4 linked regions of the Homo sapiens genome follow. The protein of the gene in region 2 interacts with the protein of the main gene of each other region in a pairwise test. Each region holds a gene or a part of one and is shown on either strand. Other genes may lie near its edges.

Region 1 (4,044 bases), on a different chromosome or scaffold from region 2:
TGGGGGGGATAGAGTCTCGCCCCACCTCCCAGGTTCAAGCAATTCTCATGTCTCAGCCTTCCACGCAGCTGAAAATACAAGCGTGCACCAACAAGCCAGGCTAATTTTTGTATTTTTTATAGAGACGGGATTTCGCCATGTCAGCCAGGCTGGTCTCGAACTGCTGGCCTCAAACTCCTGGTCTCAAACCCCTGGTCTCAACTCCTGGCCGCCTCTGCCTCCCAAAATGCTGGGATTCCAGGTGTGAGCCACTGTGCCTGGCCTACAAGGGAATGATTAACCACTTCTGGAGATGGGAGGAGGGGTAAGTTTGCGGGTTACCAAGAGGCTACAAGGTACTGCTAATGTTAATGTGCCATGTTTTAAGCGGTCTGTAATGGTTACATCGGTGTTTATCAGTGTAATTTTAACTCTAAATGTGTATTATTTACAATTTTTTGTATGCATGACGTATTTGATGTACATTTGAAAACATACACACATGGCCGGCCACGGTGGCTCACGCCTGTAATTCTAGCACTTTGGGAGGCCGAGGCAGGTGGATCACGAGGTCAGGAGTTCAAGATCAGCCTGGCCAGGATGGTGAAATCCCATCTCTACTAAAAATACAAAAATTAGCTGACGCAGTGGCAGGCACCTGTAATCCCAGCTACTCAGGAAGTTGAGGCAGGAGAATCGCTTGAATCCAGGCAGGCGGCAGAGGTTGTAGTGAGCCGAGATCGCGCCACTGCACTCCAGCCTGGGTGACAGAGTAAGACTCCTTCTCAAAAAGAAAAAAAAAATACACACACATACATGCACATGCACAGAAAAGATCTCTAAGTCATATCTCCTGGCATTGGATATTGTTCTAACAAGGGCCCAAATGTCCACATTTGTAATACAAATGAAGCAACAGAGAGGATTTCAGTAGGCAGTTGATTGAATGACAGGACTTGCGTGCCTTCCTACCTCTTGCGGCGTGACCCTGGAGTATTTGTGCTTCCTGTAGGGCTGATAGTCGACCATGTGGGAGCTTTGGTATATGTCTAAATCCACAGGGTCCTAAAGCACAAGGAGAATATAAAACAAGAGATTCCCTCGTCACTCCTCCACTTAAAGCCATTCAATGGCTTCTTGCTGTTTGTAGGACAAAGGCCGACTTTGGGGCCTGACATTCAGAGCCCAAATGATCTGGCTGTGACCCATTTTTACCATCCCGCCACCTTCCTGCCTTCTCTACTCCAGCCTTACTTCCTCCCACTTGCATGGGCCTGGCATGTGCTCTTTCCTATCTCCTGATGGAAATGCAAGTTGCCCTCCTCACAGACTAGCAAACTCCTACCTATCCTCCAAGACCCAGACTAAATGTCACTTCCCCAAAACATCTCTCCCACCCTTTTATTCTCCACCTCCCAAGAGTTAAACCCTTTCCTTGTTCCTTACAACCCTCCACAACAGCACTTGCAGGGTGTACTGTGATGGATTTAATGAAGTACACTAGAGCAGGTTTAGTGTACTTAGACATCTCTGCAGTCCCAAAGCCCAGGACAGGGCCTGGCACACTGTGGGTGCCTAATAAGTGCATGCTGAGTAAATAACTGAACCCCCAGAAAATTATAAAGAAGAAAACTCAGTTCTCTTCTTCTTCTTGTACCAAAAAAAAAAAAAACCCACAAAACCCAAAACTATCATTACAGAAAGATGAGCTTCTAGAAAGAGCCTGGCCCTTCCAGGGCCTTGCTGAGGCTACCCAACCCTGAGACCGTCACAGGGGACAGAAACCCACATCACTCACCTGTCCCGGGTATTTCACACCTGCCATGGCAAACGACCTAGACACAGACAAGTTGTTTAGCCCTGCTCTGCCACAGACAAGGAAAGTAGCCACTATCTTCAAGCTGTGCCAACCAAGCATGGCTGCCCCAGCTTTCTTAGCCCACTCCTCCCCATCTTCCCTGGGCTCCTACCCTGCATGTCACTCCATCATCAAGGGGTTGGTGGTGATACCAGGGTCCCTGGGACAAAGGGGCTGGAGCAGGACTCAGGAGGAATGAGGGCTGTTTAGAAGATCACATTTACTGATCAGGTTTACTGTTTGAGAGGTATAGCTGATCCTAGGGCAAGTGAAGTGCTGGTAAATGTTTAACAACCATGTTTTCAGGGAAAATAGGCCCTGGGTTTATAGCATCTGCCAATTTCTGTGGTGTAAATGCTCCTATCATGGCTCATTTCAGGCTATCAACATAATGTCATTGGCACTGAGTTGCACAGATATGCACAGGATGGGCTCTTGTGAGCCAGTATGAACTGGCTCCAGCTCACATGTTCCTCTGAACCAGGCCTCAGCACTTCCCCTGGATAGAGGAAGGCCCAGGCCTAGGACTCAGAGCCACCTTGATTCACAGGGGAGTATCCAAGGTGAAGAAAGTTGCAAGACTCTGCATTCCCAGTTGAACAACAGTAGTTTGTAGGCCTAACACTGACCCCTCCCTTCCAGCCCTGAAGTCCTAGCGAGGGCCTCGCTGCACAGACTCCTTGTGTGCGTGGCCCCTAGATCCTTAAGGGGTACTCCACTGCATTCCCAGGGAACCCTCCCCTAAGCCCCACTCTCTTCAGCAGACTGTGGCCCAGCAGGGTGGTGCCCAGACCTCAACCAACACCTGTATCCCCTCCCTTTTGCTCACAGACAGCTTCTCTCCTAGGGCTGGGGACCAGCTGCCACGCAGACAGAGCCTACCGCTTCTTCTGCCAGGGCAAGACGACGCTCCTGCCCTCCCACCTCCAGGTGCCCTTGCCACATGGAGAGTCCTGTTGCTGTGTCCCACTGCCACGCCTGTCTTTGAGTTGAGCCCTGACCTGTATGATGAGGGTCCCTGTCATTGTGAGGTGAGTAGGTGGCTGCTTGGGCTGCCTGCAGGTCAGTTCCCTGTCCCTGGCTCACCAGAGCCAACATGAATCCTGGCAGCACATGAACCAATGCTTTCCGATACTCTACAGAATCTTCCTAGTCCTAGGAGAGGAAGGTAAATAGAGCCCATGTGGTTTACAACATCAGACTGTGTGTGACTAAATCCACTTCACACCACAGACTGCCACCCAGGCCTCTGCTGCCTGAAAGCCTGGCTCAAAATTGTCAAAATGTCACTTTTTGACATTCATAGTGTGTGGCTACAATAAAAAAAAAATACAGAAACAAGCGTTGATGAGGATGTGGAGAAATTCCACTTCTAGTTATAAATAAAAAAGAATTGAAAGCAAGGGCTCAAATGGATACCTGTACACCAACGTTCACAACAGCATGGTTCACAATAGTCAAAAGGTAGAAACAACTTACATGTCCTTCAGAGATGAATGGATTTGGTATCTACGTACAATGGAATATTATTCAGCCTTAAAAGGGAGGCCAGGCACGGTGGCTCACGCTGGTAATCCCAGCAACTTGGGAGGCCGAGGCAGGCAGTTTGCCTGAGGTCAGAAGTTCCAGACCAGCCTGACTAACATGGTGAAACCCCGTCTCTACTAAAAATACAAAAATTAGCCGGGTGTGGTGGTGCACGCCTGTAGTCCCAGCTACTCGGGAGGCTGAGGCAGAAGAATTGCTTCAACTCGGGAGGCAGAGGTTGCAGTGAGCCGAGATCACACCACTGCACTCCAGCCTGTGTAACAGAGCGACACTCTGTCTCAAAACAAAATTAAAAAAAAAAAAAAAAAGGGAAGGCAATTCTGACACGTGCTACAGCATGGATAAACCTTGAGGACATTATGCTAAGCAAAATAAAGCAAAATAAGCCGGTCACAAAAAGAAAAATGCTGCATGATTCCACTTCTGCGAGGTACCTAGAGAAGTACAATTCATAGAGACAGAAAGTAGAATGATAGTTGCCAGAGACTGAGGAGAGGAATGGGGAGTTACTGTTTAATGGATATGAAGTTTCTGTTTCAGAATATTAAAAAAAGTTCTGGGAATGGATGGTGGTGATGGTTGCCCATTGTGAATGTACTTAATGCCACTGAATTATTCACTTAAAAGTGACTAAAATGATAAACTTTGTTATATATATG
Region 2 (3,872 bases):
CCCCCGTGCTGCTAGAAGCCTTGTAGGCAGAATGGTGAGGAGAGATGGGGAAGGGCTATGAAGCAGAGGATCAAGCAGAGTCCTGCAGATGAGAGTGCTCCTCCCCCACACACCCAGCCATAGACATCTGGAACAAAATCACCCTTTAAAGTGCGCATCTCTCACAAGAAGGGTTCTGGGTGGGAACCCTCTTATTTCCAACCTTGGGGCCTCCTGCCCTTCTACCACAAAAAAGAAAAAAAACTTCTGACAGTTTAACTGCTACTATAAGCTGTGGATCATCATTTTTGGCTCTTTCTTTACTCCCTCCCTCTGCCATCTGCTCCCAAAGCCTGGACTTTCTCTTGCAGGAGCTAGGGATGGGGAGGAAAGAACAGGGAGGCCCTGATTTTGGAATGTTTCTTCTCCTGTGTGCACCCCCTTCCTTCCTTGCCCCAGGCCTGCTGCTCCCCATCACAACACCCTCTGGGGTTGTCCTGAAAGGATGCCATGGGGTAATGAACAACAGATCCTGCCTTGGGAGGCTGACTTCATGCCTCCCCTTTCCCCCAAATCTCACTGCCAAGAAAGCCATTCCCTGCTCGGCGTGTGCAAATCCTCTGCCTGCTCACGGCGGCGAGGCGAGGCTCTGGGGTAAAGCCCCAGTCCTGGTCTGGGGAAGAGGTTCATTTTCCCGCATTGGAACGCCCTTCAATGGACAGCTTTACCTCCTGTGGAATGAAAGAGGGACGGAGCAGCGCAGCCCGTGCCTCCTCCCCTTGCATGCTGTATCTTTGGAAGCTCGGGGCTGGCCAGCAGGCCTGAGCACCGGACTCAGGCTGGGAAGGCTCTACCACACGGGAGCCCTCTCCTGCCGGCTGGCTCTTCCCCTCACTGTCACATAGCTCTCTGGATCCCAAGACCGTCCTCTCAGGCCTTTCTCGGGGGGGACCCAGCTGGCTTGGGGGAGCACAGCTGGCCTGAGAAACTGAGTTACTGTTCAAGCTCTGTAAACTGATAGAGATGCAGACATCTCCCACCTGTAGCCGATGGCAGGGCAGAGAGAAGAGTTGTGTCGTCCGCCCAGGGCTGCAAGAGGACCAACCCTGGCCATATACAAAGAAGGGGTGCTCGGGGGGCACTTCGATGCTCACTTTGCTCTGCTGCTCACCAACCACAAAATGCAGCATGACAAATCCAGGCCATTGGCTCTCCTGAATGTCCACGACCGTGCTAGAGTCAATCTTCAGCCCCCCGCTCACTTCGGCACTGCGCACAAAATCCTGGGTCTGGAGGTCCTCCACCCGCTTCAGCTCTCCCGTAGCCAGCTGGATGATGGCGCCTTTCATGAAATGGGAAGGCAAGTGAGAGGAGGTAATGGGGGGCGGCGTTGGCTCCTTGTCTGGGAAGGTGGCTCTGGCCTGCACGTCCAGACTTGATGCTACCAGGATCTCCGAGCCCACAGGCAGCAGGCCTGAGTCAGTTCCAGTGGGCACCAGGTTGCCATTGGCTACAACCATTGCTTTGGGTAAAGGTCTATGTTTTACTGGTTCCTGATGGGACTGAGGGTAGAACCCACGGGCCTGACTTTTCTCTGCCAGCTCTGCAGGGTTCCTGGCTGACCCTCGCCCCTCACCCTGATGGTCGGGGGTATGATGGGATAGGTTGAGGGGGCTGGGTTCCTCCTTCCTCTGAGCTGCCACCACACGATAGTCCTGAGAAGCTAAAGCGCCAACCACCCGCTGGACCTCAAGGTCAGTGTCCGGGGTCCCCCGGTGTGCTGGTGCTGCTACCTCTACCCGTGGAGTCTGAGAACCTGAAAACAACTGTCCATCCACCACACATTCTACCACTGGCACCAGTCCCTGGCCTTCACCCTTGCTGTTGGGGGAGTCAAGGGCTTCACTTTCCCGTCTTACTAAATTTCGCTCTCGTGGTCTCTGTCCTCCATTTGCAGCAGCTGCTTCCAGAGCAGACTGGCTCTCCTGAGGGGTAAGAACTGGGCTGGCACCTGCTGGAGGGGTTTCATGCAAAGTATACCCAGCAGGTAGCCTGGACATCTGATAATAAATGGGCATCCGACCTGGAGCAAGGTCCAGCGGCTGAGTACTTGAATGATGTGGCAATTGCCCAGATGGGGAGGTGGCAGAGGGAGCTTTGTTAAATGAGTGGGCCGGGGAGGGAGCCTGTGGGGGAGGAGTGGCTCCTTCAGCCAGAAGTGAGGCATATGGCACAAAGTGTGGAAGGTGAGAGGTGGCAAGGTTGGCAGAAGGAGATAGGAGGGGACTCGGTAGGAAATTAGGTGGCACAGCATAGGGAAGGCTATAAGGAGACCCAATGAACTGCAGCGAGGTGGATGGGAGCTGAGCATAGTGGAGTGGAGGATAGTGGATGCCTGGATGTTGAATTAGTGAAGACGCTACATTAAACGTTGGGGGCAAGGGACTCATATTCACCACAGATGGGAGTCCAGTTGGTGAAAAGGTGGCAGGCGGCACAGCCACCTTATACAGCATGCCATACTGGTCCACTGTCAGACCGGTGATGGCCTCAGCTCCATCACCCCCCAGGCTGACTCTGGCTCCTGCCTGGCTCTGCCCAGCCACCACAACCCCTCGGGACCATTCAGAAGCATCACTGGAGGGTGTGTGGTTAGTGGAGCAGCTGGTAGTTCTCCCCATATCCTCGCTGGTCACGGGGAGGTCTCGTTTCTTTGGTGGAAGGCATTCCTGACTCCTTTCATGAACAGGTTTCATATTGCTTTGTGGTGTTCCTGGAGCCTGGAAGGAGTCGACTTGCTCCCTGGGGCATCAGAAGGGGCTTCTCTGTAGCTTCCCTGTACCCCTCTCTGCTTCTGGCTGGGGCGCCCACATCTATTAGGGAACAAATCAGAGGCAAAGAAAAGTAACCTAGGGATGAGCCAAGACAAAGGAAATAGAAAGAACTGTGCCATGGAGGAAGATGTAACAAAGGGGACTGTTAGAAAATAAGGAGGAAAGAGAAAGGGGCAGACAAGGAGGCTACCCCCAACTCATCCAGCCTGGGACATGAGAGAAACAGTCGGGGAAATCACAAGGCACAAAGAGCTACAGGGACACGCATTCACCAATGCACAAATAACCTGTGGGCTCCACAAGCCCAGGGAGACCAACAGCTTCACGGTTAGTCATGTGTCTCATAAGCACCTTGTCTCTTTTCTGCCTTCTTCCCAAAGGGGGCTTTGAACACATGGTCTTTCCTGCTGGCTCTTTTGCTTTTTTTTTTTTTTTTTTTTTTTTTTAAAACACATGGAGTTTTGCTCTTGTTGCCCTGGCCACAGTACATGGTGCAATCTCAGCTCACCGCAACCTCGCCTCCCGGGTTCAAGCAATTCTCCTGCCTCAGCCTCCCAAGCAGCTGGGACTACAGGCATGCACCACCACGCCTGGCTAACTTTGTATTTTTAGTAGAGATGGGGTTTCACCATGTTGGCCAGGCTAGTCTCGAACGCCTGCCCTTGGGTGATCCGCCCACCTCAGCCTCCCAAAGTGCTGGGATTACGGGTGTGAGCCACAGCGCCCAGCCTCCTGCTGGCTCTTTTTCTTAAGTTTCTCCTTTTGCTACCAAACATGAATGTGCCACCTTCTTTCCTGAACATATGACCTCATCCTTGCTTCCTTTCTGTAGCCTAATTTGGGTTATGATCTCACCTACTGCTATCCCAAGCCTGGCTAAAAACTCTCTTCCTCCTTTGCCTCATCTCATCAGTACCTCAAGGACCTAGGTGCCAAAACCCTCAGGTCTGCTCGTGTTTTGTTTTTTTTTTTAAGACTTTGCTCCCTAACCAGGTTATGAAAATTAACATCTTTGACCCATGAAATAATACATTTTAACTCAGCCTCTATATAGTGAAA
Region 3 (2,460 bases), on a different chromosome or scaffold from region 2:
GAGGGAAGGGGGACTGAATCTGCCTGTAGCCAGGCTGCAGGCCGTCCATGAAAGGTGGCACAGCTGTCATGGGCACAGAGTCGTGCTGCACCGTGTACCCCACGTATGGGGGATGCAGATACTGCCCTTGATGTGGCACAATCTGGGTGGCCTGCTGACAGTTCAGCACAGAGAAATTCGTGGGCATGTTGACATACACGTTGTTCATGGTCCCTTCCGGCAAGCAACAGTTGGTCTGTGACCTTGTTGGGGGCGCCCGGGCCCCTGAGTTGGCGCTGGAGCTGGAACTGGCAGCTGTGCTGGACTGGCGTGAGGACGACCCCCGGGAGGTGCTGGCACTGGGGATCATGGGGATGGTCTCCATCAAGCGGTTACCCCCTGGGGCTCGGCTCTGCTGGGGATCCTGCTTAGGCCGGAGACATCTGCAGCAACAGGCTGCCACCAGGGACCCCAAGATGATAAAGGCGACAAACACGGAGCCAACAATGAGGAACGGCACGTAGATGGGCACTGAAGCAAAGGACAGAAACACAACATTATGATCTACTCTAGGAACACAGTACCAATCGCCAACTGGCAATGGCAATGAATGAATGAGCAACACTGATACCCACAGCTGAAGGACCTACACTGGGCTAATTTGTTCACATATTAGGAGTCCATAAGATGCACCATTCTTTATCAAGTGCTTAGAAAGGTCCTAAGACCCTACAGGCATGGCAGGTCAGCCCCTAGAAGCAAACTGTTAATATTTAGTTCAACTTGTCAACTGCAAGACTGACTGAGCCAGATATCCGATTTAGCAAAAGTATGGGTTTAACAGGTTAAGACAGTTATGGTTCTAAACTTCCTACCATAATCAAACTGTCCAAACTTAAGTCTGCCCGACCATATTGTTGTAGGATCTTCATAGTAATAATGACTTCAACTTATTTAAAAGTCTTTTTTCCCCCAGAAAGTTATTTAAGTTCCTTGCAAATTTCTTTTTACCATTTTTTAGCAAGTTCTTTTTTCATAAGCAGTTAAGTCAAAAATTTAGGCCAGACTCTAAGTCACTACCATTTCCAAAAGGCAGATGTACAAGAGGTAAGGCACAGAAGGGTCAAGGAGGGGTTTAAAAAAGACCCTCTTCACTCTTCCTTAGCAAAAGCCAGGGTCCTTGGGTGGCATTGGGTCCAGGTGATGGGGTCTGTGTGGAGGTGGAGGGAAGTTATTCCAGGCATTGGGCCATCCTGAAACAATGTCCAAGAGCAAACATCAGGAGCAACAAGACGTGTTCCAGAAAGAAGAGTCACCCACAGCAAGCCAAGAAGGCAAGAGTACACAGGGAAAGCCCTCAGAGCATAAAGCAACGGCCATCACACTTCACCCGGGAAGCTGATTTTAAAATAGAAAACCATAAAAAGTAAAAATAAAAACCTTTTGATAAAACCACTAGCAAACTCCATTTTAAAATTAGTTTCTGGCGGGGCACGGTGGCTCACGCCTGTAATCCAAGCACTTTGGGAGGCCAAGGTGGGTGGATCACCTGAGCTCAGGACTTCAAGACCAGCCTGGCCAACATGGTGAGACCCTGTCTCTACTAAAACCACAAAATTTAGCTGAGTGTGGTGACGCGCACCTATAATCCCAGCTACTCTGGAGGCTGAGGCAGGAGAATCGCTTGAACCCAGGAGGCAGAAGTTGCAGTAAGCCGAGATTGTGCCACTGTACTCCAGCCTGGGCAACAGATTGAGATTCCATCTCAAATAAATAAATAAATACATAAAATTAGTTTCTTAAAAAAATCTTTTAGGAGCCATAGAGAGGGCACTACAAGGCTTTAGAAAATAGACGCAGGTTGACAGGGACAGAATCAGATGGGAGGTGCCTGCAGAATGCCTCTGAGCCACTTTTGTGGAATTCTACCCTATGTTACCAAGAGCCTGCATTTTCTGATGTGTTCTTGCCCCAACCTCCTGGCTATATTTTTGGGAAATACATAAGCACAGGGGTGGATTGGGTCTTACTGGTCTTGGCAAAGCATAATGCCAGCCCAGAGTCGGATGGGGCAGCATTTTAGGAAGGAGACCACGCCTTTGAGGTCAGCTCTATGAATACCCTTTCATCATCCATTAGAGCAGCCGGGCTTTCTAATTATGCTCCTTTTCACTGTTCTGGTATTGCTGGAGTCAGTGTTTTTAAAGTATAATACCAGGTGGAATTATGGAGAAATAATGCCCTGTAAGTAAAACAATACTTTATAGGTATTTAACCAAAGGCTGACTGTGGAATATTTCCTGGAGTTTCAATGCTGAACAGAGCAATTTCTATATATAGCGCCCCTTTAGCAGGTAGAAACATTTGCTACAGTGTCTGCAGCACAGCTGGCGCCCAGCAGTAGAACTGTCCTAATTACACTATCACTTCAGGCTAACTACGGATCACTGGAGAAGTGGATGCAGGCTTTTTCCTTGGCGT
Region 4 (3,500 bases), on a different chromosome or scaffold from region 2:
GTGAGAGGTTGTGATGAAAGGTGACCTAAGAAGGAAGCTGAAGTGGACCAGTTTCATATTAGTAGTCTATTGTCATGGACCTGTTCATATCAGTAGTCTATTGTCCTTACACAGGTCTTGAAATGTCCTGTTCATTGATTCGCTGACTCCTTTACCAATATGATTCTACCCTTTCATTTTTGTGTGCCTATTCACTATTCATTTACTCACCTACTCACGATTTACTCATTTCTATGTATTTATTTACTCATTAATTTAAGTAATTTTGAAAACCATTTCTCCCTACAAGCCTACTAGAGGCTGAGCATTGTTCTAGGTGGAGGGATTCAAAGATGACTAAAGTCAGGTGTGGTGGCATGTGCCTGGAGTCCCAGCCTACACCAGAGGCTGAGATAGGAGAATTGCTTGAGCTCAGGTGTTCAAGACTAGCCTGAACAATATAGTGAAACCCTGTCTCTAAAAAAAAAAAATGATGACTAAGAAAAGCTTGGAGTCTAATGCAAGTTCAGGAATAAACCAGAGATCAGCTCTATGCATCTCCACCTCTAAAGGGGAAACAACTGCATAATTCATTTAGTACAAGTCGATTCACTCTAAAATGCCCTCACAGAGCTCACCGTGTAAAACTAATTTGCAATGGTTTGCTTTATTAAGTGGGGATAGCATCTCTTTGCTATGTTAATTTCTTCTGACTTTTTGGAGTGGGTGAGATTTGGACATATCATTTTCTGAGCATGACGGTCCTCTGTCTTTAGCATCATAGGGCTGACTATGAGGTTCCTGGGCTTCTGAGCAGAAGCAGCAGAAGGACCCTGGCTGGTAAGGCCTGCTGGGTTCTTTGAGACAGTTTAAGCACTGAATGGGCCCAGCTGAAGTTGGCTGTGGAAGGCATTGGTCCTCCCAGGTAATAAGGAAGGACAGCATAATTTACCTTCTCCCAGCTTCTGTGATCTCACAATGCTGTCCAGCTTCAACATAGCTGATCAAGGGGCCTGAGATAATAGCAGGCAGGTTTTGAAACCAGTAGACTTGACTTTAAAGGTTCTGCTGCTTCCAAGTTAGGCCTTAGGCTGGTTAGCTGCTCAGAGCCATGGTTCCTCATTTGTGAAATGGGTTCATAATAATTGCAGCAGCAGCAGCAGTAGCTACTGATATGGTTGTAAGGATTAATTGAGTCCATGGAAGGGTAAAGACTCTGTAAAATTTAAGCTGTGACACAGATGTTGGTTTTTATTATTATTCAGCCTCAATCTTCCAAGGAAATGGGGTCAGAGAGCTCCACAGACCTTGAGGGGACAGAGAGGAGAAATGGGGAACAGTCTAGCCTGGTCTTTTCCCTGTTTAGCACTGGGAATAAAGATAAGGTCCCAAATCCAATTTACTCAGAGCTCTGTGGTAGGAGGACTCAGAGATGTGAAAGACAAAGTCCCCAACACCGAGGAGCTTCAGAGGCTCCTGGGCTACTTGGCATAAAGGAACTCTGCTCCCAATGAAGGAGGGAGGGTGCGTGGGAAGGGACCATGGCTTAAGCAAAGAACAGTGAATGTTTATTTACCCTTGCCTGTGATGTTACAAACTTGCAATTCTAACAACTAGAAATGTTGTTGAAGTCATGCAGTGTTTTCTAACTCATGAGTGTGGCACCATCTCCTGAGAATCCGCCCTGGGACTGAGCAGCGGTGGGCAGCTGTTTGCCATCCACAGAGCCTAGGGCAGCCTGGCACAAGCAGGTGTGGGATGGTGGAGGCTGGGGAAGTTGGCTGTAGAAAGCAAGGGGCACCTTCCTCCCTGGTGCTCCCAGGAGGACCAGGGCCACCAGCTTAAGCCCTCTGCTGTCCCTACTGTATGGGCTCCTGTGAGGGGTGGATGGCATGGCCCATGCTGGGCATTCTGGAGACTGCTCAGTGCTGTACCTGAGGGAGAAGATGATGAAAAAGAGGCAGAGGGAAGATGAAAGATTCCCATAGGGAAGCTCAGCTGCTGCAACTTAGGCTCTGCGGTCTGGAGGCATAGCTCTGGTCACCCTCTAAGAGGGTACGATGAGTCTCAAAAATGGTGACATGGAATGCTCCCAGCAGAGATCTTTGTGTATGATGCCGTGCACACACACAATTGCACACAAACGATATCCATGCATGTTTGATGCACACACATAGAAACAGAAACAGGCAGGCGCACGACTGCCTGTAGAAAGCAGAGATGAGTGCTAACAGGGATCAGAGGAGGCGGCGAAACAGAGGAGGGACACTTAGCAACATGCCTAGTGGCCTTGGAGCTCATGGAGGGCTGAGAACAGGTAAGGCAACACCATCAGTCTCACTGCTCTGTCCAGGTTCAGGCAGAGGCTGGGGTTGCAGGGACCGGGCAGTGGTCATAACAGGAGAGAGAGGCTGCCCTGGGCTGTAGAGCTTGGAGTAAAGGGGAGCAGGTGAGTGGTTTCAGGTGAAGGAGTGGACAAAAGTGGGAGGGGCCTGAGCATGGGAATGTCAGGAGTGTCCCCTGCATGGGAGCAGAGAGCAAGGAGGGGCTCTGAGAAGAGGTACACTCTTGGGGACCTGGAAGATGGAGCAGGAGGAGAGCAGGGAGACCTACTTGCAGACTCCATATCAGAAAGTCCACAGGCCATGAGGGAACCCTCAAGGGTGTAGGGTCAGCCATCATCAACACTTTGGTCATTGGCACAAGCTGAGCTGAGAATGGAGGCAGCCTCTCGGGCAGCAGATCTTCTGAGAAGATGTCCTGGGCTGAGGGGTACTTTGGGTTTTGAGCCTCATCTTAAGGGAAAACTCGGGATTGACAGGTGGAGGCAGAGTCTGAGACTAGAACTGACCACTGCCACAGCAGCAGTTCTGCGGGGTGTGTGTGTGTGTGTGTGTGTGTGTGTGTGTGTGTGTGTGTCTTACGTCTGTGTGTGGACACATGAGCACCTCAAGACAGAATTGTGAGTAAAATGTCAATTTCCCATCTGGCTGAACTGCCAGAAAGCTGTTTAAGGGAGGAGGCAGTGATGGATGACAAACACACTGAACATTGAGTCCTTACTATGTGCAGGGCACTGTTCTAAGCTCTTTAGATGTATTAACACTTTCACCCTCACAGTGCCCCTCTCCGTAAGCTACAGACACAGGTATATGGATGGGCACATAGATACACAGCAACACTAACACACCTGGGTTCACAGTTGTATATTTGTACACAGAAATACACAGCTGCATAGACACAAATGTAAACACACATGCAGGTGTATTTAACATGGATGCAAACCAACACACACACGTAGAGACGTGCATAGACACCTTGTGTCTTCAGGGGGCAGGTATGGGATTAGGGGAAGGCATTTAGAAAAGTTGTGTGGACAGCAACAAAGATAATGTGGCTACCTTCATAGGCTTTGCAGGCCTGAGCACATGCAATTTTTTAGAGAAGGAAAAAGAGGCTCAGAGATGTGATTTGCCCAAGGTCACACAGCCACTAAAACACAGATCTGGGACTCGGGAGGC

Evidence for each region. The genes of interacting proteins can lie anywhere in the genome.
Region 1: the proteins of ATXN1L (region 2) and SPMIP9 interact in binary tests that used the Homo sapiens proteins (3 or more experiments, as listed by UniProt).
Region 3: the proteins of ATXN1L (region 2) and SHISA2 interact in binary tests that used the Homo sapiens proteins (3 or more experiments, as listed by UniProt).
Region 4: the proteins of ATXN1L (region 2) and C1orf94 interact in binary tests that used the Homo sapiens proteins (3 or more experiments, as listed by UniProt).

Annotation. Positions count from the first base shown.
Region 1 is NC_000002.12:88,523,405-88,527,448, reverse strand, and holds the start of SPMIP9 (protein SPMIP9), read right to left. Parts: upstream 2,801-4,044; 5' UTR 2,667-2,800; exon of another isoform or gene 2,643-2,666; intron 2,040-2,642; exon of another isoform or gene 1,950-2,039; intron 1,815-1,949; 5' UTR 1,805-1,814; coding exon 1,778-1,804; intron 1,045-1,777; coding exon 952-1,044; intron 1-951. UniProt on the Homo sapiens protein: Microtubule inner protein (MIP) part of the dynein-decorated doublet microtubules (DMTs) in flagella axoneme.
Region 2 is NC_000016.10:71,848,604-71,852,475, reverse strand, and holds part of ATXN1L (ataxin-1-like), read right to left. Parts: intron 2,853-3,872; 5' UTR 2,736-2,852; coding exon 666-2,735; 3' UTR 1-665. UniProt on the Homo sapiens protein: Chromatin-binding factor that repress Notch signaling in the absence of Notch intracellular domain by acting as a CBF1 corepressor. Binds to the HEY promoter and might assist, along with NCOR2, RBPJ-mediated repression.
Region 3 is NC_000013.11:26,046,557-26,049,016, forward strand, and holds part of SHISA2 (protein shisa-2 homolog precursor), read right to left. Parts: intron 511-2,460; coding exon 1-510. UniProt on the Homo sapiens protein: Plays an essential role in the maturation of presomitic mesoderm cells by individual attenuation of both FGF and WNT signaling.
Region 4 is NC_000001.11:34,204,407-34,207,906, forward strand, and holds part of C1orf94 (uncharacterized protein C1orf94), read left to right. Parts: intron 1-3,500.